Linked DNA regions of Homo sapiens. The protein of the gene in region 7 purifies or fractionates together with the protein of the main gene of each other region. This does not show direct contact. Each region holds a gene or a part of one and is shown on either strand. Other genes may lie near its edges. The genes, in order: NAP1L4, ARF3, EIF5B, AHCY, PLS3, NASP and MAPK13.

The links.
Region 1: the proteins of MAPK13 (region 7) and NAP1L4 purify together in Homo sapiens (co-immunoprecipitation; one large-scale study listed by IntAct). This does not show direct contact.
Region 2: the proteins of MAPK13 (region 7) and ARF3 purify together in Homo sapiens (co-immunoprecipitation; one large-scale study listed by IntAct). This does not show direct contact.
Region 3: the proteins of MAPK13 (region 7) and EIF5B purify together in Homo sapiens (co-immunoprecipitation; one large-scale study listed by IntAct). This does not show direct contact.
Region 4: the proteins of MAPK13 (region 7) and AHCY purify together in Homo sapiens (co-immunoprecipitation; one large-scale study listed by IntAct). This does not show direct contact.
Region 5: the proteins of MAPK13 (region 7) and PLS3 purify together in Homo sapiens (co-immunoprecipitation; one large-scale study listed by IntAct). This does not show direct contact.
Region 6: the proteins of MAPK13 (region 7) and NASP purify together in Homo sapiens (co-immunoprecipitation; one large-scale study listed by IntAct). This does not show direct contact.

Annotation. Positions count from the first base shown.
Region 1 is NC_000011.10:2,985,830-2,989,329, reverse strand, and holds part of NAP1L4 (nucleosome assembly protein 1-like 4), read left to right. Parts: intron 1-58; exon of another isoform or gene 59-201; intron 202-1,203; exon of another isoform or gene 1,204-1,253; intron 1,254-3,500. UniProt on the Homo sapiens protein: Acts as a histone chaperone in nucleosome assembly.
Region 2 is NC_000012.12:48,947,488-48,950,987, reverse strand, and holds part of ARF3 (ADP-ribosylation factor 3), read left to right. Parts: intron 1-3,500.
Region 3 is NC_000002.12:99,392,889-99,396,388, forward strand, and holds part of EIF5B (eukaryotic translation initiation factor 5B), read left to right. Parts: intron 1-78; coding exon 79-210; intron 211-1,378; coding exon 1,379-1,510; intron 1,511-1,620; coding exon 1,621-1,697; intron 1,698-1,830; coding exon 1,831-1,995; intron 1,996-3,500. UniProt on the Homo sapiens protein: Plays a role in translation initiation.
Region 4 is NC_000020.11:34,296,856-34,300,355, forward strand, and holds part of AHCY (adenosylhomocysteinase), read right to left. Parts: intron 1-3,500. UniProt on the Homo sapiens protein: Catalyzes the hydrolysis of S-adenosyl-L-homocysteine to form adenosine and homocysteine. Binds copper ions.
Region 5 is NC_000023.11:115,637,674-115,641,173, forward strand, and holds part of PLS3 (plastin-3), read left to right. Parts: intron 1-2,436; coding exon of another isoform or gene 2,437-2,463; intron 2,464-2,734; coding exon 2,735-2,830; intron 2,831-3,500. UniProt on the Homo sapiens protein: Actin-bundling protein.
Region 6 is NC_000001.11:45,615,041-45,617,216, forward strand, and holds part of NASP (nuclear autoantigenic sperm protein), read left to right. Parts: coding exon 1-161; intron 162-264; coding exon 265-431; intron 432-1,296; coding exon 1,297-1,353; intron 1,354-1,585; coding exon 1,586-1,663; intron 1,664-2,176. UniProt on the Homo sapiens protein: Component of the histone chaperone network. Binds and stabilizes histone H3-H4 not bound to chromatin to maintain a soluble reservoir and modulate degradation by chaperone-mediated autophagy.
Region 7 is NC_000006.12:36,133,513-36,137,012, reverse strand, and holds part of MAPK13 (mitogen-activated protein kinase 13), read right to left. Parts: intron 1,261-3,500; coding exon 1,152-1,260; intron 995-1,151; coding exon 965-994; intron 530-964; coding exon 482-529; intron 358-481; coding exon 243-357; intron 135-242; coding exon 63-134; intron 1-62. UniProt on the Homo sapiens protein: Serine/threonine kinase which acts as an essential component of the MAP kinase signal transduction pathway.

The DNA.
Region 1 (3,500 bases), on a different chromosome or scaffold from region 7:
TTGTTGGGAGTTTGGCCTGAGATTGCTAGCTAAGGAATGCTTGCTTTTTTGCTTAAAGGGAAAAGTGTTTTAGGCTTCCAGAGTAGAAATCTGATATTACTTCGTTTGATTCTTCGACCACTATGGTGATAGGAAGTAGCTGATCTCTGCAGGAAACTGCTGTTACCTGGCCTCAGCTGAATTTTTGTGGGACCTCCTGAGGTAAGCAAATTTATGCCTCCCGAAACTATAGTTGTAAGGTTTGTCTTTGAGCATATAGTAATGGAAAACCCTTATCAGTAGGTAGATAGTAAATAATTTTGTATTTGGCTGCTAATGAAATTTTTAAGAAATAGTTTGTGGTGATATAAATTAGTTTTCATCTGGCAGTCATTGGTTTTCCACCCTGCCCTCTTAAGAGAGAACAGGGTTGCTTTACTTTGTTTGCCAGAGCTTTACATTTTGCATTTAGTAACAGAGGCATTGTGTTTTTATAGTATGAAAACAACGAAAGATCACTTTGTGATCTTTACTTTTTGATTTTGACCACTTCCTGTGTAACCTTAAGTTTCTTACAAGTATCCCCTGTTAACTGTTAAAAACGAAATGTATGTTCATTTCATGTCCTTGGGACTTTTAAAAATGCGCTGTGCATTATCTGGAAAAGCCTGTTCAAAAACAAGATGAGATAATTTCTGTTTAATTTGTGGTAGAAAGAATGACTGTGCACTTTTATGTGCAAAGGTTTTAAGTATAATAATTAAAATAGTACTTGTTTACTCAGTTACCGAAAAGTAGCTTTCAGTGATTTGCATCTGTTTACTTATTCATGAGCATCTTCTATGTACTGGGCACAGTTCTAGGTACTGGGGCCTCCCGCAGAATAAAACAGAAGTCTTTGTCCTTGTTTCTGCTATGGGAGACAGACGAACAAGTTCAATGGTGGCAGGTGCTTTTGAAAAACAGTGCAGAGGAGTAGGGACTTTGGTGGTTGCAATATGAAATAGGTAGAGAGGGAAGTGCCTTATTGACAAGATGACAAGATCTTTTAATATGTACTGGATTAAGAAGTTAGCCTCATTGAGTCGTATGCTAATGAACTGCCCAGAAAAGAAGGGTGGAGGAGATGGGAGTGCAGCAGTAAAGACTGCTGCGCCCCAAGTAAAATGTAGTGTTTTGGTTAAGGAAAGGAAATCATTTTTTGCTTTCTTCTTGAAACCCCAGGGCTTGGCACCGCAGAAGTCTCTGAAGAGACAGTCTGCTGCTGTTTGGAGGCAGGTATTTCAGTAGATCTTGTAACCAAACATGAATGACTAAGGCAGTGTTTCTCCTCTGTGTCTTCAGAAACTGCTTGAGATGTGTGCATGCAGTCCCGGGCACCATGCGTGCTGGGTACTGGTAACACAGAGACAAGTTGTCATTTGGTAGCAGTGAGTTAAGCAAAGATTTCTTGGCAACCAGTCTCATCCCGAGTCTGTTGCTGGGCCTTGGGACTTCTGTATTGAGCAAGTAGACAGGGTCCCTGCCCTCGTGGAACTTGTTCTTTAGTGGGCAAACATGTATTATTCATTGCTTTTTTTTTTTTTTTTTTTTTGAGGTGGAGTCTCGCTCTGATGCCCAGGCTGGAGTGCAGTGGCGCGATCTCGGCTCACTGCAGCCTCTGCCTCCCAGGTTCAAGCAATTCTCCTGTCTCAGCCTCCCAAGTAGCTGGGATTACAGGTGCTCACCACCACGCCTGGGTAATTTTTGTATCTTTTTAGTAGAGACGGGTTTCACCATATTGGTCAGGCTGGTCTCGAACTCCTGACCTCAGGTGGTCTGCCCACCTGGGCCTCTCAAAGTGCTGGGATTACAGGCGTGAGCCACCGTGCCCAGCCTATTCATTGCTTTTAAACATTATCATGGGCCTGGCATGGTGGCTCACGCCTGTAATCACAGCACTTTGGGGGAAGCTGAGGTGGGCAGATCACCTGAGGGTCAGGAGTTTGAGACCCTCTCCCGCCTTGGGTGACAGAGCGAGACTCCACCTCAAAAAACAACAACAACAACAAAAAACCCAGAACATTATCATGGAAAGTTTAACAACATGATTAACTTCTGATCCTGGAGAGTGGTAATGATAGACTGGATCAGGAGTCTACTGGCCTGGGCAATAGAAATGAAATCTGGACTGTCTCAGGGCTTCGTATAATCACCAGCTTTTGTGGGTGGGGATGTTGGGGTGTCCTACAGGGGTATCTTGATTCCTTCTGAGAACAGATCATTTCTTTGTCCTTTCTGATGTCCTAATCTAAAACATCCAGTACTCCTGGAGGATTTGAACTTGTGCCCAATGGCTGGTCAGACTCTCTTGGATTGAGAATGTTGGATTGCCATTCCTCAGACTGAATGTGGGCCAAGCAATTGTGCTTTAGAAATTTATCTTAGAGTGCGGTGGCTCATACCTGTAATCCCAGCACTTTGGGAGGTTGAGGCAGGTGGATCACCTGAGGTTGGGAGTTCGAGACCAAGTCTGGCCAACATGGTGAAACCCTGTCTCTACTAAAAATACAAAAAAAAAAAAAAATTAGCTGGGCATGGTGGTGGGCACCTGTAACTCCAGCTACTTGGGAGGCTGAGGCAGGAGAAACTGGGAGGTGGAGGTTGCAGTGAGCCGAGATCGCGCCACTGCACGCCAGCCTGGGCAACAAGTGCGAAACTCTATCTCAAAAAAAAAAAAAAAAATTTACTACCATCCCTAATTTTGTAGGATATATAGGATTTGTAAGGAAATTATAAGGAGTCTTGTGAAAACATTAATTACATTTGAATTAATTTTAATCCTTCAGTTATCTCCCATAAAGACATTGAGGACCTTTGAGTTTATTAAGACAGAGTAAATATATAAAAGTTTTGGGGAGTACGACTACACTCTCTAGCTTTGTCTCTCAAACGTGGCCCAATTTTTTTTTCCTTTCTTTTTCTTTTTTTTTTTTTTGAGACAGGGTCTGGCTCTGTCGCCCAGACTGGAGTCTAGTGGGGCAATCTTGGCTCACTACAACCTCCGCCCCCCAGGTTCAAGCAGTTCTCCTGCCTCAGCCTCCTGAGTAGCTGGGACCTCAGGCGTGTGCCACCATGCCCAGCTGATTTTTGTATTTTTAATGGAGATGGAATTTCACCACGTTGGCCAGGCTGACCTCGAACTCCCGACCTCATGTGATCCGCCCGCCTTGGTCTCCCAAAGTGCTGGGATTACAGGCGTGAGCCACCGTGCCTGGCCATGGCCCAATTTTATAGTTACTCTAGCTATGGAGTAGATGTTTTCAGTTCAAAATTAGGAATTTAAGGTTATATTTTGTTACAAAAATCTTTAAAAATTTCATAAGAAAACAGTTGTTTGGGGTACAAAGAAATTAATCCATAAATAGGATTGTTACAGTGACTAATATAAATAAAAGAACATTTGTGTAATCATGGGAATTATTTTATTTTATTTTTCCTCGACCCAATTAACTGGGTGAAAATTTGCTTGCCAGTTCAGA
Region 2 (3,500 bases), on a different chromosome or scaffold from region 7:
TGGTGAGACCCTGTCTCTACTAAATACAAAAAATTAGCCGGGCGTGGTGGCAGGTGCCTGTAATCGCCCAGCTACTTGAGAGGCTGAGGCAGGAGAATCGGTTGAACCCAGGAGATGGAGGTTGCAGTGAGCCGAGATTGCGCCATTGCACTCTAGCCTGGGCAACAAGAGCAAAAACTCCGTCTCAAAAAAAAAACAAAAAGGCAGACACAGAAGAACACATATTGTACAATTTTACTTCTATGAAGTACCTAGAGTAACAGATTCATAGAGACAGGAGAATGGTGGTTGCCAGGGGCTGGAGGGACAGGGGGATTGGGGATCCTCTGTTTAACAGGTACAGTTTCAGTTTGGGAAGATTAAAAAGTTGAGGTGATGAATAGTTGTGATAGTTACACTACAGTGTGAATGTACTTAACGCTACTGAATTGTATACTTAAAAAAATGGTTAGAATGGTAAATTTTGTGTATATTTTACTATGATTTAAAAAAAAAGAAGCCAGTCGGGTACAGTGGCTCATGCCTGTAATCCCAGAACTTTGGGAAGCCGAGGTGGGCGGATCACTTGAGCCCAGGAGTTTGAGACTAGCCTGGGCAACATGGCGAAACTTCAGTTAAACAAAAATTAGCCAGGCGTGGTGGTGCATGCCTGTAGTCCCAGCTACTCCAGAGGCTGAAGTGGGAGGATTGCTCGAGCCTGGGAGGTGGAGGCTGCAGTGAGCCACTATCACGCCACTGCACTCCAGCTTGGGTGACAGAGCAAGACCCATCTCAGAAAACGAAAGATGCCAGGCGTGGTGGTGCATGCCTATAGTCCCAGTTACTCAGGATTGCGTGAGCCCAAGAATTTGAGGCTGTAGCGCACCATGAGGGCACCTGTGAATAGCCATTGTATTTCATCGTGGGCAACATAGTGGGACCCCATCTCTAAAAAAGAAAAAGTTTAGTTTACCAGCTTGATACTGTAATTAAGGACCCAACTGAGTTTTTCCCATTTTTCTGCTCTGACATCCTGGAGTTTTTAATGTCTGTCTCCCTCTCTTTATGGTCTCCAGATTATTCTAGCTTCTCATCCTTCTACATCATCAACATCCAAAGGCTGGACAAGAGAACATTGCCATAGGTCCTTTTCTAAGATTGAGGGGCCAGGCACAATGGCTCATGCCTGTCATCTCAGTACTTTGGGAGGCTGAGGTGGGAGGACTGCTTGAGGTCAGGAGTTCGAGACCAGCCTGGGTAACATAGCAAGACCTTGTCTCTACAAAAAAACTTTAAAAATTAGCCAGGCATGGTGATGCACACCTGTAGTTCTAGCTACTTGGGAGGTTGAGGTGGGAGGATCTCTTGAGCCCAGGAGATGGAGGCTGCAGTGAGCCATGATCATGCCACTGCACTCTAGTCTGAGTGGTAGAGTGAGACTCTGTTTCTAAAAACAACAGTAATAATAAAAACAAACATGTTCAGGCCAGGTGCAGTGGCTCATGCCTGTAATCCCAGCACTTTGGGAGGCCGAGGTGGGTGGATCATGAGGTCAAGAGATCGAGACCATTCTGGCCAACATGGTGAAACCCCGTCTCTACTAAAAATACAAAAAATTAGCTGGGTGTAGTGGCGGGCGCCTGTAGTCCCAGCTACTCGGGAGGCTGAGGCAGGAGAATGGTGTGAACCCGGGAGGCAGAGCTTGCAGTGAGCCGAGATCGCGCCACTGCACTGCAACCCGGGCGACAGAGCGAGACTCTGTCTCAGACAACAACAACAACAAACAAACAAACATACATATTCACCTTCAGATCTGTTCCTCTTGTATTTTCTTTCTGAAGAAATGCCACCCAGCCCTAGGCCAGAAACCTGGGAATCATCTTTGATTATTCTACTCTTCTGCGTACATTTAAGCACTCATTAAATCCTGTGGATTCTACCATTTTGATGTTTCAAATCTGTCCTCTTCTCTCTATCTCCACTTGTAGTTGACAACTTGCGATTTCTCACCTGTATTACTATACCTCCTAAGCAGTGTCTGTGCCTCCAGTCTTTCCCCTTTCTAATTTACTCCTGAAACTTCTAAAGCACATACCTGATCACGTTACTCAGCATGGCCTTTAAAGCCCTTCATGATCCAGTCCCTGCTTATCTCTCCAGCCCCATCCCTCATCATTTTCTTTCTTTCTTTTTTTTTTGAGACCGAGTCTCACTCTGTCACCTAAGCTGGAGTGCAGTGATGTGATCTTGGCTCACTGCAACCCCTGCTTCCTGGGTTCAAGCAATTCTCCTGCCTCAGCACCCTGAGTAGCTGGGATTGCAGGCCCACACCATCACACCCGGCTAATTTTTCTATTTTTAGTAGAGACGGGGTTTTACCATGTTGGCCAGGCTGATCTTGATCTTCTGACCTTGTGATCCGCCCACCTCGGCCTCCCAAAGTGCTGGGATTACAGGCGTGAGCTACCACACCTTGCCTGTACTCTTCACTTTAGGAGGCTGAGACTGGAGGATCGTTTGAAGTCAGAAGTTCGAGACCAACCTGGTCAACAAAGTGAGACTCTATCTCTACCAAAAATAAAAATAAAAAAGTTAGCTGCGTCACGATGATTTGGGCCCGTAGGTCTTTTTAGCTACTGGGGAAGCTGAGGCAGTAGGATTGTTTGAGCCCAGGATTTGGATGCTGCAGTGAGCCTGGGTGACAGAGTGAGACCTCATCTCTTTAAAAAAAAAAAAAAGATTATATAAATTTTTTTAAAGTGCTATCTGAAACTTAGGTCTTTTTTTCTTTTTCTTTTTTTTGAGACATATTCTCTCACTCTGTCACCTGGGCTGGAGTGCAGTGGCGTGATCATGGCTCACTGCAGCCACAACTTCCTGGGCTCAGGTGATTCTCTTGTCTCAGCCTCCTGAGTAGTTGGGACTACAGGCGTGCACCACCACACCCAGCTTTTTTTTTTTTTTTTGTAGCGATGGGCTTTTGCCATGTTGCCCAGGCTGGCCTTGAACTCCTGGCCTCAGGCAATCTTCTTGCATCAGCCTCCCAAAGTGCTGGGATTACAGGTGTGTCCTGCTGTGCCTGGCTCAGTCTTTATGCCTTTGCACACACTTCCCCTGCCCAACTCCCTCTTTATTGTCTGATTACTTCCTCGTCTTCCTTTAGGAGCCAGCTCAGGTATGACCTGAGAATTAGGTTTCAGAATCACCCTTTACCCTTCAGTGTTGATTTACTGCTCCAGCTTTCTGTTCACATAATACTATGTGCTTTACTCTTACTCTCACACTGTTTTGTAGTCCTGTCTTCACTAGTCTTTTCCATTAAAGACTGAGTTTCATGAAGGCAGAAACTGTCTCCCTCTCTGTATCCCTAGTTCAGTATGCCCAATAAATGTTTGATGAATGAGGCCAGGCACGGTGGCCCACGCCTGTAATCCCAGCACTTTGGGGGGCAGAGGTGGGCAGATCACAAGGTCAGGAGATCAAGACCATCCTGGTTAACATGGTGAAATCCTGTCTCTACT
Region 3 (3,500 bases), on a different chromosome or scaffold from region 7:
ATGAGATTCTCTTATATCATCTTCTACTGCTAACCACTTTTAAAGTACATTTGGTAACAAATGTTTTTATCTCTGTAGAACCAGTATGAAAAGCATAAAGAAGTAGAAGCAGCTCAGGGGGTAAAGATTCTTGGAAAAGACCTGGAGAAAACATTGGCTGGTTTACCCCTCCTTGTGGCTTATAAAGAAGATGAAATCCCTGTTCTTAAAGTAAGTTCATTTAAAAATTTTTTTCCTTAAAAGCTATTTGAGTTCTGGCATGTGTCAGCATTGCACATGCTAGGGATGGTGACCAAAACTGGCTTTGTCTTTGTGAAGCCTGCCATTTCTTGGCCTCTTAGCAAACTTGATGCTTTTGAATTACTTCAGTTTGTACAATCATAGAAATTGGTATAATTTTTATATGTACTAGAATTATAAAAATAATGCATTTTATTCAAATAAAAAAATGAGTCAAAAGCTAGAAGTCGGCTGGGCATGGTGAATGCACACCTGTAGTCCCAGCTACTTGGGAGGCTGAGGCAGGAGAATCACTTGAACCTGGGAGGCAGAGGCTGCAGTGAGCCAAGATCGTGCCACTGCACTCCAACCTGGGTGACAGCAGGACCCTGTCTAAAAAAAAAAAAGCTAGAAATTGTATATTCTTTTTGGCCCATGTCCATTGTAGTTTCATAAAAGTGGACTTTGAGCCATAGTTTGTTCATTTGCCAAAGAGAAAATACAACTGTTCCCAGCACATGGCTCTTGTGTCCTGGGGCCGTGTTTATTATTTAGGCAGCATCAAGTCATGCTGTTGGGAATAAGCTATCTTAGGGCCAGTGAGAGAATAGGGCAGGCCTGTCTCTTCACCCAGTCCTGAGTATGGAGTGGACTTACGTCCCTTCAGTGGCATTGATAAACTTGTTTTACTTATTTCTGGTTAAAAATCTCTTCTTCCATTTCCCGACAAGCAGTGATGGAGGAAGGAGCTGCTGAGATCATGAGATTATGGTATTTCCTAGTTAACACAGACAAGCTGAACTTTTGGGCTATCATAACACATTACGTTTATGTGGTACTTTTTTAACTTTAAAAAAATTTTTCTTCTCTACTGTTTAATTCTGCCCACCCATCTACTGTATTTGCCAAGTGGAGCGGAGATTAAACATATTTCAAAGTTAGTAAACCTAAGACAAAGGTGAAGCGAAATACAGTTAGGGTATGGCCCCGAAATCTCCTCCTTCATTCCAGCACAGGTTCTGTGATGCCTTGCTCTATCTAAGCCTTAGTTTCATATTTGCAGATGAGTACTTAACCAAAGAGAGAAACACAATTTAATTCTAGACTGCTGAGGATAGAGGTGTGTTGACAACCTTATCAAATCTGATTTCTTTTCAAGGATGAATTGATCCATGAGTTAAAGCAGACACTAAATGCTATCAAATTAGAAGAAAAAGGAGTCTATGTCCAGGCATCTACACTGGGTTCTTTGGAAGCTCTACTGGAATTTCTGAAAACATCAGAAGTGCCCGTAAGTAACTACAACTCGCTCCACAAGTGAATGGTGGTTGGTCGTGGTTTTTGGTGCCATCGCCATTACCTGATACATACAGATAAACATGGAAACTCCCATTTTTTCAGTATGCAGGAATTAACATTGGCCCAGTGCATAAAAAAGATGTTATGAAGGCTTCAGTGATGTTGGAACATGACCCTCAGTAAGTAATTTCTCTTGCTATGAAGGCTTTCATGTTACGTAGCTATCTTAAAACTGTCCTATCTTAAAAAACTGTCCTCTGTGACATACTCTGTTTTTCACTGAATGGTCTTTGATGTGTTTTAACCTTTTAGGTATGCAGTAATTTTGGCCTTCGATGTGAGAATTGAACGAGATGCACAAGAAATGGCTGATAGTTTAGGAGTTAGAATTTTTAGTGCAGAAATTATTTATCATTTATTTGATGCCTTTACAAAATATAGACAAGACTACAAGAAACAGAAACAAGAAGAATTTAAGTAAGTTACTGTTTTTATTTACTTTGAGTCTTTGTTAATGAACATGATTGAGAATTACTGAATTCCAGAAAGGGCTGTAAACAGCAAAATCATGGCATTTACTCATCTACCAGAGGCTGCATCCTGAAATGGTGTGTTACAAACCAGAAACCCAACATACTGGGGACATTCCAGCAGTATGCAAACAAGTCTTGTCTGTGACTTCAGTTTAATAATCTTGGCAGACTTGGGTCTTGTTAATGGGTTCGTAGTTATTAAATGTAGGGACTTTATGTTGCTCATCTGGGATTATATAGATTGGAAGTAACAAAACTTGAGTGAGGAAAACCGGGAAATAAGAGATTCTGTGGGAGAGAAGTCCATTCCTCTACCAAACTTTCACTCAAGCACTCACAGTACCTACATTGCTGCAGTGGTAGAGGAGGCATCAGCAGAGAACCAGGCCAGCCTCCCTCCTCCTTTCCCTTTGAGACAGGGTCTCGTTCTGTCACCCATGCTGCAGTACAGTGGCATGATCATGGGTCACCCCAACCTCTGCCTACTGGGCTCAAGTGATCCTCCCACCTTGGCCTCCCGAGTAGTTGAGACTACAGGCTCACACCACTATGCCTGGCTAATTTTTTGTATTTTTGGTAGAGATAGGGTTTCGCCATGTTGGCCAGGCTGGTCTTGAACTCCTGAGCTCAAGTGATCCACCTGCCTCTGCCTCCCAAAGTGCTGGGATTATAGGTGTAAGCCACTGTGCCTGGTCTGGGACATGCTCTTATTGCAGGACAATTGACACATGTTGAGAAGTGCTGAAAAACCAAATAAAGCAGGGAAGGGCCTAGATAAGGAGAGGAGGGACTGTGATTAATGATGTGGTTTGGGAAGGCATCTCACCTCTTCAGACAGAGTAAGCCACACAGGCACATGGGGAGTGTCCAGAGAGAACAGCAGTGCGAGGCAGAGTGACCAGAAGGGACAGTGATAAATGAGGTCAGAGAGGGTGGCAGGACCTGTATCGTCAAGGATCTTACAGGCCATGGGAGGGATTGAGCTTCTCTGAGTTTTGCAAGAAGCCATTGCCAAGGCTGTGTGTTCACAATCAGACTGGTTAATTGGGTTGTTATGTGGACCTTGGGTTGTTAGGAAGTCAGTGGCAAGAGCCTGTCAGGAGGCTCCCACAGTCCAAGCAAGAGGTCTAGGTGATTCAGACCACAGTGATGATAGGAGTGATGGCGTAGTTTGGGATACATTTTTAAGTGGAGCTTACTAGTAAATATTAGGATTTAGACTGGTATATGCTCACTTTAGATCATGAAACCTGAAGTGAGAAGAATTCTACTTAACAAGACTGCTGGAAACTTTTAAAGCATTTTAAGCGTGTGCTCAATAAGCAGGGTAGTTATGTAGTGGCCTTTTGGATCAATGGTTTGGGAACGTGGTGGAGAAAAGGAGGGTGATAATACGGTCTGATGCCTATGTGATCCCCCAGTAGCCTACATATGTGCCTAACGAAGACC
Region 4 (3,500 bases), on a different chromosome or scaffold from region 7:
TAAAATTGTCTGTCAGTCAGCTTCCTACAGTGCATTTTAACAATTTCAGAGATGAAACACGCCTCCCGCATGAGAGACCACTCCGGCTGTGCCTCAACTCAAGCCACCCACCCCAGCCCTCCTACCCTAGTAGGCCATCACCAGTGATAGCTCTCCTTGGAAATCTGGACTTCAAGCACCCAACTCTAGCCACGCCTCATCTTTCTGGTTTTCTCCTTCCAGAGGCCAAGCTCCAACAAGGCTGTGGCCTGTCAGGTGAGAACCTCTATTCAATTCATCCTACCAATTTCTAGTGTCCCTTCTACCCCCTTTCCCTTTGAGAACTCACTTGGCAAAACTCTCAGCCCAATTAAACCCGACCCTCCACTGCACCGGACCCACTGAACCCAGCAGGAGGACAATCACAACCCCACCAAGACATCATATTTAATTAATTAATTAATTAATTATTTTAGAGACATAGTCTGGCTCTGTAGACCAGGCTGGGGTGCAGTGGCGCGATCTCGGCCCACTGCAACCTCCACCTCTCAGGTCCCGGTTCAAGCAATTCTCCTGCCTCAGCCTCCCCAATAGCTGGGATTACAGGAACTCGCCACCATGCCCAGCTAATTTTTGTATTTTTAGAGGAGACGGGGTTTCACCATGTTGGCCAGGCTGATCTTGAACTCCTGGCCTCGTGATCCACCTGCTTCAGCCTCCCAAAGTGCTGGGATTACAGGTGTGAGCCACCACACCTGGCCAAGATATCATATTTATTAAGACCATAAAAGACACATAGCACATTGCAGCAATCCTATGACATTTTCCTAGTAAATTTACTCCCATTTTCTACTCTCCTCAACCCTCCAACACCTTTCCCCATTGAATGACAATCTCACTTCCCAATTCACTGAGATGAATTCAGAACCAGGCCACTTTTCCCCTATGGAATCCACTAGTCACCTATAGCAGTCATCTACAGCTTCAGACCAGGCACTCTTTCCTGTTACCACAGATGAGTTGAATGGGCGCGGTGGCTCACACCTGTAATCCCAACACTTTGGGAGGCCAAGGTGGGCAGATCACTTGAGGTCAGGAGTTCAAGACCAGCCTGACCAACATGGTGAAACCCCGTCTCTACTAAAAATACAAAAATTAGCCGGGTGTGGTGGTGGGTGCCTGTAATCCCAGCTACTCAGGAGGCTGAGGCAGGAGAATCACTTGAACCTGGGAGGCAGAGGCTGCAATGAGCTGAGATCATGCCACTGCACTCCAGCCTGGGTGACAGAGTGAGACTCGGTCTCAAAAAAATAAAATAAAATAGATGAGCTGTCCTGTGGGCGGCAAGCCACCCAGGCACCGAGGCAAGAGACAGAGGACACGAGCTGTTCCAGTATAATAAAATATAAAACAAGAATAGTTATACTAGATATAGATCTTATATATGATTATATATGAATATCATTAATCATTAGTTTGTAGCAATTACTTTTTATTCCAATATTATGATAATCCTTGCTCTATAATCATAGCCTAGGAAAAACCAGGCCATACAGAGATAGGAGCTGAGGGGACATAGTGAGGTGTGACCAGAAGACAAGAGTGCGAGCCTTCTGTTATGCCCGGACAGGGCCACCAGAGGGCTCCTTGGTCTAGCGGTGACGCCAGCGTCTGGGAAGACGCCCGTTACCAGGCGGATCGTGGTCCAGCGGTAGCAAAAGGTGTCAAGGAACAACACCCGCTACTTAGCAGACTGGGAAGTGGCGGCGGCGGGAGGGGGGGGGGTGTCTCCCTTTCCCCAGGGGAGTTTAGAAAAGACTCTGCTCCTCCACCTCTTGTAGAGGGCCTGACATCAGCCAGGCTCGCCCACAGTTATCCAGAGGCCTAACCATCTCCCTGTGATGCTGTGCTTCAGTGGTCACACTCCTAGTCTGCCTTCATGTTCCATCCTGTACACCTGGCTATGCCTTCTAGATAGCAGTAGTAAATTAGTAAAAATACTAATAGTCCCTGATATGCAGAAATAATTGCGTAAGCTGTCTTTCTCTCTGTCTCCTCTCCCTCCCTGCCTCGGCTGCCAGGCAGGGAAGGGCCCCCTGTCCAGTGGACACGTGACCCACATGACCTTACCTATCCTTGGAGGTGACTCACATTCTTTACCCTGCCCCTTCTGCCTTATATGCAATAAATAACAGCGCAGCCCAACATTCGGGGCCACTACCGGTCTCCGCGCATTGATGGTAGTGGTCCCCCGGGCCCAGCTGCCTTTTCTCTTGTCTCTTTGTCTTGTATCTTTATTTCTACACTCTCTCGTCGCCGCACACAGGGAGAGACCCACCGACCCTATGGGGCTGGTCACTACACTATCCCTGCTCCATGGGGCCTGATTCCATATCCCCTCTCCTCCTTAAGGACTTCCATACTCCACTAAAACTGCTCTTCCGTCCAAAGACCAGCCTGATCTCCATACCTGATGCAAAATTACCTAAGACCATGTTTCTACCAGCAGCACAGATTGCATGAATGACTTGCCCTCCTTCCTGAAACCCTTTCTTTACTTGGCTTCTGTGACTGTCCTGTGCTTTTCCACCTACCTTCCTGGTTCCTCTTTAGCTAACAGACTTTAGGGTTTGGGGGCCCTCAGGGCTCCATCATCTCCCAGTTCTCTTATGTTTACCAATTAAGCTCATCCAGTCTTATGGCTTTACATACCTTCTCTACGGGGATGACTCCCACGTATTTATATCCAGCCCAAACTACTCCCCTGAACTTGAGACTCGATGTGATCCAACTGCCTCCACAGCACCTCCACTTGGATGTCCAGTTGGATCTATTATGTGTCATGTTGGAGTCCTCATGGCTCCTTTGCCCCCACTACCGGTTACTCTCCCAATCTTCCCATTTTAGGAAATGAAACCACCATTCAACCAGCTACTCTGCCCAAAAACTTAAGATTTGATTCCTCTTTTCCTCTTTCACCTCAATCAGCACGTTTTTGGCTCAACAAGTGAAATATATAAGCAATCCAACTGCATCTCACCACCTTCATCTAAACTGTCACTTCTCAGGCTGGGCGCGGTGGCTCACAGCCTGTAATCCCAGCACTTTGGGAGGCCAAGGTGGGCGGATCACCCGAGGTCAGAAGTTCGAGAGCAGCCTGGCCAACATGGTGAAATCCCATCTCTACTAAAAATACAAAAATTAGTTGGGCGTGGTGGTGGGCACTTATAATCCCACCTACTCAGGAGGCTGAGGCAGGAGAATTGCTTGAACCTGGGAGGCGGAGGTGGCAGTGAGCTAAAATAGCACCACTGCACTCCAACCTGGGTGAGAGGGAGACTCTGTCTCCAAAAAAAACAATAAAGAAATAAATACACTGCCACTTCTCAGTTGGACACTGCCACACTCTCTTCACTGGTCCCATGCTCTAACATGCCATTCTCCCCACAGCAGCCAGAAGAGGGAGGCTCTTAAAAATTTAAGTTACATCACCTCCATCATTCTACTAAAGTAAACAAAAC
Region 5 (3,500 bases), on a different chromosome or scaffold from region 7:
TGGAGTTCTCCTTAACTGCCTCAATTCTGTGTGACATCCAGATGTTGGTACACAGGGAATAAACTTAAGGATCTTCATCAGATGTCACTGACCAGCAAGGCTGTGAAAACAATACTATGTGATGATATGATTTTGTTCAGTGATGAGAGGAAGCAGTGAGTTGCCTGTACTACTGATTTCATCCATGAAAATTAAGAGTAGCCCCAAAATTATAAGACCAACTGACCCTGCCCTCTCTTTTAATTACACAATATGTTTGGCCAGGTTTGTTGTTGTTGCTGTTGTTGTTGTGACAGGGTCTCACTTCGTCACCCAGGCTGGAGTGCAGTGCTGCTAACATGGCTCACTGCAGCCTTTACCTCCCAAGCTCAAGCAATCTTCCCACTTCAGCCTCCCAAGTAGCTGGGACTACAGGTGCACACCACCAAGCCCGATTGATTTTTTTTTCTTTTTCTGAGATGGAGTCTCCCTCTGTCACTCAGGCTGGAGTGCAGTGGCACTATCTCGGCTCACTGCAACCTCCGCCTCCCAGGTTCAAGAGATTCTTCTGCCTCAGCCTCCTGAGTAGCTGGAATTACAGGCATCCACCACCACGCCTGGTTAATTTTTGTATTTTTAGGAGAGACAGGGTTTCACCATCTTGGTCAGACTGGTCTCAAACTCCTGACCTCATGATCTGCCCACCTCGGCTTCCCAAAGTGCTGGGATTACAGGCATGAGCCACTGTGCCCGGCCTGATTTTTTTATTATTTGTAGAGATGGGGTCTCACTGTGTTGCCCAGGCTGGACTCAAGCTCCTGGGCTCAAGTGATCCTCCCACCTCGGCCTCCTAAAATGCTGGGATTACAGGCATGAGCCATGGTACCTGGCCAGCCAGGTATATTTTGCTTCATGCACTAGATGCGTTCCTGAAAATCAGCAAGCCAACCATAAATGGATTTTATGTAGTGGGATATATTTTAAATGTAAAGAGAAAATCTTATTTTTGTAAATGAAGCCTGCTTTGAATTTTTTTATTTTTTATTTTTTAAATTATTTTTTGTTTATTTTTTTTTTTGAGATGGAGTCTTGCTCTGTCGCCCAGGCTGGAGTGCAGTGGCGCCATCTCGGCTCACTGCAAGCTCCACCTCCCAGGTTCACGCCATTCTCCTGCCTCAGCCTCCTGAGTAGCTAGGACTACAGGCACCCGCCACCATGCCTGGCTAATTTTTTTTGTATTTTTAGTAGACATGGGGTTTCACCGTGTTAGCCAGGATGGTCTCGATCTCCTGACCTCGTGATCTGCCTACCTCGGCCTCCCAAAGTGCTGGGATTACAGGCATGAGTCACCGCCCCCGGCCATCAATATTTTTAAAAAGGAAATAATTGTTTGGTAATGTGAAAACTAACTTCCAGTTTATCTGTATTCAAGTTCAAATTTTCACCTGTAAAGCCCTTTTCAGGGTAGTAAATACAGATTTTGCTGGGTCTGCTCTTTACTTGTTCTTCTCAAGAGCATAGGTTTATTATAAATTGTTTGTGTAGCTTTAGCAAGTAATTGGAAGTGAAAGCACTTTCGCAATTGTAGTACACTATTCCTTAAGAGGTAAATGCTATGCCCCCAAATGATAGAATCGGAGTTGGCATTTTATGAATTGCTCTGAAATAGCTTTCAATTACCTGATTTTCCCCATTCTTAGAATCATTTATGGCACCAAGTTTCAAACTCACCTGGGTAACTGGTTTAAAAGGCACCTTTCTGGGCAGCTCCCAGACATTTATATTTGGTAGCTCAGGAATTGGATTCAGTAATTCACATATTGAGTAACTTCCTCAGGGGTTAGTATGCACATAGACTATGAGAAACACTCCTTCATAGCCTGTCTGGACCTTCAAAGCCCAGTAACAGGAAACTATTAATATCGTAGCTGGAAGGTGGTCTTCACATATGGCAGGATTAAGGAATCTTGACTCAAATTCCGGTCCTCTAGCATTCCAAAGATGCAGGAATTTACTTGACACGTGTGTAAAGGTTCTTAATAAGCGTTTGTGCAAGTACAATAGTTTTCAAGCTGTGTTTTGTGGAGTTGTCCACACAACCTGAATTCATGTTGACTGTGAGCCAACCCCATTGTTTTATGTATTGGGATTCTAAGAAAACAACATTCAAGTGATTTAGTCCAGGGGTTTAAAACGAAAAGAGACCTTTGTTTTGTTAAGTACATTCAGATCATAGAGGGTTCAGTGTTATTTTAGCAACTAAAATGTTTACCATTTAATGCTTTTGTCATTTAAATTTACAATTAAATACATCTTTAACATAGCTAATCTCTTCTTCGTAGGTTGTGGTATATGCATTGTGCTTTGTAATGATATAACCTGTTTATTTTCTCTTTCTTCTATGCTTCCTGGATTTCTGCTCTCCTACTTTTTTAAATGCTTGTTTTGTCTGTCAAGCTTATTGACTTCAGTAATTCAGTGAAGGTACAGAACTGGTTATATGTTTATTAGCATTATTGTATTGATGACTTTAATAATTGCGAAGTCATGTCAAAATCCAGTTCATCCATATGCAAGACAGATATAAGGCAGATAGATGGACTTTTCTGGGGAAAACACCTGTTAAATTAAAAGGCAGAGATTTGTGCCATTTATTCTCAAAAAATCCAATGCAAATAGCCTTCCAAACATGGGACAATAGGATACATTCATTCCTTGTAACTGTGATCTCACTGACATTTTCAATTCTTTGTAGGATTCCAAAGCCTATTTCCATCTTCTCAATCAAATCGCACCAAAAGGACAAAAGGAAGGTGAACCACGGATAGATATTAACATGTCAGGTTTCAATGTAAGTATAAGTGCTCTTTTGAATTCTACAATCTTGCAAAATTATTGTCAATTTCTTATAAGTACAATAATTTTTATAATCGTATGAAGTAGAGTTGGCAATTTTAAGCATTATTTTAAAATGTATTACTGTACATGTAATTCAGAGGCCAGAAAACTAGCTTTGATTTATTTTGATTGTTAGTGAATTCCATCGTTGTTGTGGTATTGATTTATATGGATGGCATAAAATATTCAAAACAAGTATGGGGAAATAAGTAACTAGAAGCTAACCTTTTCCAAGTATTTGGATTACAACCACAGTAATAGATTTAGTGACTATATGAAAACCTTTTCCAAGTATTTGGATTATAACCACAGTAATAGATTTAGTGACTATATATTCATATTCCTGTGTTGAGAGTAATGTGATTATGTTTTACAAACTCCCAATCTATGAAATCTAATTTAGGGAATTACTCTCAGAGACCATGTTCCCTGGTTATGTCACTAATTTGTTTAGTGACATTGGACAAGTTCCTTCTCAAAATTGGATTTCACTTTGTTCATCCATAAAGTAAGGAGTTAGAGTGAACTATTTAGTCCCAAGTTTCTAGGAATCTGTGGTTTTTGTACCCATTAGATATGGAATGCATGCTACTAATTAACAAAATCCACATATCTAGCCTATT
Region 6 (2,176 bases), on a different chromosome or scaffold from region 7:
CCAGTCCTGCCTTAACCTGCAGGAACAGTACCTGGAAGCCCACGACCGTCTCCTTGCAGAGACCCACTACCAGCTGGGCTTGGCTTATGGGTACAACTCTCAGTATGATGAGGCAGTGGCACAGTTCAGCAAATCTATTGAAGTCATTGAGAACAGAATGGGTGAGTGAAGACGAGCTGCTTCATGGTGATGTTGGATCCAGCAATTAACAAGGAAGAAAACAGTTCTTTTTTGAGCCATTACTAATCACTTTATTCTTTTTAGCTGTACTAAACGAGCAGGTGAAGGAGGCTGAAGGATCGTCTGCTGAATACAAGAAAGAAATTGAGGAACTAAAGGAACTGCTACCCGAAATTAGAGAGAAGATAGAAGATGCAAAGGAGTCTCAGCGTAGTGGGAATGTAGCTGAACTGGCTCTGAAAGCTACTCTGGTTGGTTCCGTTAACATTTTGATAATAGCATGTTTGGTACCATTTATGTTAATGTTCTATTTGCCAGGAACTTTTCATCATGACTTGGTTTCCAGGGAGTTGGTGGGCTCATCTAATTATTCCTATCAAGTAATGCAGTGGTTAAGAGGAAATACCCTGGAGCCCCAGACTATCTGGGTTTTAATTCCATACTTACGTGTGGCCATGGGCCTTTCTCTCCCTCAGTTGACCGATTTGTAAAATGGGGATAATACAGGTTGAGTATCCTTACCTGAATGCTTGAGACCAGAAGTGTTTTGCATTTCAAATGCTTTTGGATTTTGGAATATTTGCATCATACTCAACAGTTGGATACCCTTAATCTAAAATCTGAAATGCTCCAGAGAGCATTTCCTTTGAGTGTCAGTCAGTCCTCAAAAAGTTTCAGATTGTTGGATTAAGGGATGGGATGCCCGACCTGTAGTACATATGTGTAAAATATACTTCTGACAGTACTGGAAAAATAGACATTTCTTAAAAAATGTAAGTTGCTATTTCCATCTCCAAGAACTCATTTGCATAAATTAATGAGGCATTGAGAGGCATTCACCACAAATTGCCTGGTTCTGTTTTTGGCACAGACCTTTTTACCCTGCAGGTAGGATATAGAAGATTTAGTTTATTATGTACACTCTATGTATAGACTATGCTCTGGGTGGCTGCTAGACAGGCATAGGTGGGCCAGGGGTAGAACTGGATACTATATGGAGGCCACTAGCATTTCAGGTCTTAGTCAGTTGTTTGGATGGTGATGGGTTCCTGTTACAAGGCTGTGGGCGGCCTGGGTTCTATCTTCAAACTAATTTGGATTTGTCATTTCTCGCAGGTGGAGAGTTCTACTTCAGGTTTCACTCCTGGTGGAGGAGGCTCTTCAGTCTCCATGGTGCGTATTCAGGTGGTTTTTTGGTCACTTACATTAAGTCTCAGTGTTGGCTCATGCCTGTAATCCCAGCATTTTGGGAGGCCAAGGCAGGAAGATTGCCTGAGGCTTGGAATTCAACACTAGCTTGGGCAACATAGTGAGACCTTGTCTCTGAAAAACTAAAAAATTATAAAAGCCTCAGCATTGATCTCATATAGCTTGTACAATTGCTAATAAGGGCTTATTTTGCCAGATTGCCAGTAGAAAGCCAACAGACGGTGCTTCCTCATCAAATTGTGTGACTGATATTTCCCACCTTGTCAGAAAGAAGGTAAGTCTACATGTGGTGTTTCTTTTCTACCGTTTCCTCAGACTCCATTTTTAATCCCTTTCCTATAAACCCCTCCCTATAGTTGGTGCATATAAGACACTTATTTTCCAAAGGTGGTAAGGATTTGTGAGTGGAGACTGTTGTGTTTTGTTTTGTTTTGAGACGGAGTCTTGCTCTGTCACCCAGGCTGGAGTGCAGTGGCGCAGTCTCGGCTCACTGAAACCTCTGCCCCCCGGGTTCAAGTGATTCTCCTGCCTCAGCTTCCCAAGTAGCTGGGATTACAGGCGCCCGCCACCACGCCTGGCTAGTTTTTGTATTTTTAGTAGAGACTGGGTTTTGCCATACTGACCAGGCTGGTCTTGAACTGCTGACCTCGTGATCCACCCACCTCGGCATCCCAAAGTGCTGGGATTATAAGCGTGAGCCACTGCCCTCAGCCAGGGAACTCTGAACTCCTGTTCTGTTTCCTGACTCAAACACAGGAATTCAAACTTGTACAGTGATTACCATTCA
Region 7 (3,500 bases):
ATAAAGTGTCTGTTGAAGGAAGGAATCCCTAGATGGAGTTTGGCTTTTCCAGCAAAGGATACAATCTTTCCCCTTGAACAGAGTTTTCCCTGTCAGCATCTCTGCCATGATACAGCCCACAGACCAGATGTCCACTGCAGAGGGAGGGAGAGTGTCACCTGGACTGTCTGGGGCCCAGCAGTCAGTCAGCACCGAGTGACCAGATGGCCCCAGGACCGCCCTCTCAGGCATTGACCACTGACCTGTCTGGTTGTAGTGCATCCAGCTGAGGATCACCTCGGGGGCTCGGTACCAGCGGGTCACCACGTAGCCAGTCATCTCGGCGTCTGCATGTCGCGCCAGCCCAAAATCCAGAATCTATGGCACAGGGGATAAATAGAAAAGGAACTTGCTGAGGGGAGGAGGCTCTGGGAGCGGCTTCCAGGGGCTTCCCTGGGGGAGGGCCTATCCCGCCTCTGGGCTGAGCCTGCAGCCCACTCACCTTCAGTTCACAGTCCTCATTCACAGCCAGGTTGCCTGGCTTCAGGTCCTGGGGGGAGGACAGAGAATGCATGCTAGGCTGAGGCAGAGATGGAGCTTGTCCTAGCTCCACCACCACCCAGGGGTGTGACCTCAGCCAGGCCCCTTCCCCTTCTGGGCCTCAGTTTCTTCATGTGTAAAATGAGGGTTGGACTAGGTGTTCTCTCAGGGCCCACCCAGCTCTAAAATGTTCCTGATTCTTGAAGCCTGAAACACTCAGCTCAGGGCTCACTTTGTCTGCAGCAATTCCCCATGAAGTCCCCTGGGACACAGTGACTCTTTTGAGCAGGCCTTCCTGGGCCGTGGCTGGGTGTGAAAACTCCACATTCTGTGCTCCTGGGCAGTGTCCCCTCCCTCCAACTTTCCCACTCCTTGATTGCCAGAGAACCCCATACCCAGGGATGGGACAGGGGCCTCTGAGGACCATGGCAGAGAAAGCACTCACCCTGTGCACGACCCCAGCAGAGTGGATGTACTATGTGGGAGAGAGAGAAGGGTGAGTCCATGGCCCAGCTTCCACACCAGGCACTTCAGGCTGGCCGACCTGTAACAGTGCGCTCCCTCCAGCCTCCCCAAACCTCAGGTCTAGACAGCAAGGCGTCCCCTCTGCCAGCCTCCAAGTCCCCACCCACCTTAAGGCCTTTGAGCATCTGATACACCAGGTACTGGATCTTCTCCTCACTGAACTCCATCCCCATGATCTTCTGCAGATCCGTCTGCATGAAGGGCATCACCAGGTAGCTGGAAGGCATGAGGGGTTCTTGGAACAGTGCCGGGTCCCACCCAGCCCCAGGTCAGAGCTCAGAGGAGGGACCTCAGGGCAGAACAGGGGTCATAGAGACACCCTCCAGTGTGCAAAAACTCAACTCCACCTCAGCCAGCCAGATCACCACACGGGCCTCTGGGCTCCTGGCTCCCAGTCTCCCTGTGGCGGGCCGCCCAGCTGGCAGAGCTCGGAGTAAGCGCTGCAGTTGGAGCGCGCTCAGGAAAGCCACATGGAACTGTGTTCCCGCTCTTCAAAGGTACTCTCTCCTTGCCCTCCTCCACACCCCAGGGAAAGCCACAGCTAGGAGTTAGAAACATCTGCCAGTATTTCCTTCGGCTTCTGTCCAAATATTTGATCCCTCAGAGGGTCATGCCCAGCTGAGATGGCTCCACAAACAAACAATATGTCTACCTTTCCAAGAAGGAAACAATACAACAGTTTCCAGGAGGGTGGAAGAGGGAGATGGGGAGGCTCCTGCAGCCTCTTAGGGGATTGCACAACAGGATAAGGCCAGCAAAATGTAACTGTTACAGTAAAAGCAAAGACCAGGACAAAGACAAAAAATAATAAAAATTATAAAATAGGCCAGGGGCATACCTCCAATCCCAGTGCTTTGGGAGATGGAGGCTGGACGATCGCTTGAGGCGAAGAGTTTAAGACCAGCCTGAGCAACATAGGGACCCATCTTTCTTTCTTCCTTTCTTTTTTTCTTTGAGATGGAGTCTTGCTCTGTCGCCCAGGCTAGAGTGCAGTGGCGTGATCTTGGCTCACTGCAACCTCCACCTCCCAGGTTCAAGCGATTTTCCTGCCTCAGCTTCCCTGAGTAGCTACAACTACAGGTGCACGCCAGAACGCCCAGCTAATTTTTGTATTCTTAGTAGAGACGGGGTTTTGCCATGTTGGCCAGGCTGGTCTCGAACTCCTGACCTCAGGTGATCTGCCTGCCTCGGCTTCCCAAAGTGCTGGGATTACAGGCGTGAGCCACCATGCCCGGCCTGGACCCCACCTTTCAGAAAAAAAAAAAAAAATTAGCCAGGTGTGGTGGCATGCACCTTTAGTCTTAGCTACTCAAGAGGCTGAGGTGGGAGGATCACTTGAGGCCGGGAATTCGAGATCAGGATGAGTAACATAGTGAGACCCCATATCTATAAAAATTAAAACAAAACAAAAAGCTGGACATGGTGGCATGCATCTGTAGTCCCACCTACTTGGGGGGCTGAGGCGGGAGGATGGCTTGAGCCTAGGAGTTGGAGGCTGCAGTGAACTGTGTTTGTGCCACTGCACTCCAGTCTGGGCAACCCAGCCCTATCTCTAGAATATAATAAATTTAAAACTTTTTTAAAATGAATGTTACCTTAAACAATTATGTAATAGGTTGTGTTTTTTGTTGTTGTTGTTGTTGTTGTTTTTGAAAGGACATGCTGGAGGCATCTCCAGGAGACTCTGGATTTTGGCAGCCCTCTCCTGCCGGACCACACACCTCCCTTGGGGGCCTCTCCATGCCCAGTCCCCTCCTGTGTCTTTCCCCTCCACTCGGGCACTGGTTCTTTCATCTTGGCAACATGCTTCCTGAAGCCTCTCTGTGCTAGAACCACATTCCCTTGACTTTGCTTCTTCAACTGACCACCCCTTCTCCCTCTCTCACCACCAAACTTCTAGAAAGGGCGGTCCACACTCCTGGATCCCACTGCCTTACCTCCCAGTCCTGAGTTAACCTGGTTTCTGCTTCCCTCCTACTGCCAGACTGCTCAGCTCAAGGTCACCAGTGAACACCCGACAAACACACCATGACTCCCTTTTCTTCTGATCTAACCTTTCACCAAGTCTGAAACTCCCTCTCAATTCTTTGCTGACTCTCCTCTGCCTCCTATCAGGCCCTCTCAGCTTCTTCCATCTGCTCATCCTCTTGGATCTTCTCTTTCATGTTGATATCTGAATCAATACTATCTTACCACATTCTACAATTATCTGTTCCCGGGTGTCAGCTATAACCCATCGGTGATTATTCCAGCACAAATCCACATCCCTAGCCCAGACCTTCGTCTCCTGAGGTTCATATTTATTTGCAACTGTGATTAAACATTGGAATGTTCACAGTTTCTTTAAAAGTAAAGTGTCCAAAATGGAGTTCGTTATCTTTCCCCCAAGATCTGTTCTTCCTCTACCGTGTATTTCAAGCAGGAACCTGCCCATTCCTCCACCTCTGCCACCTCAC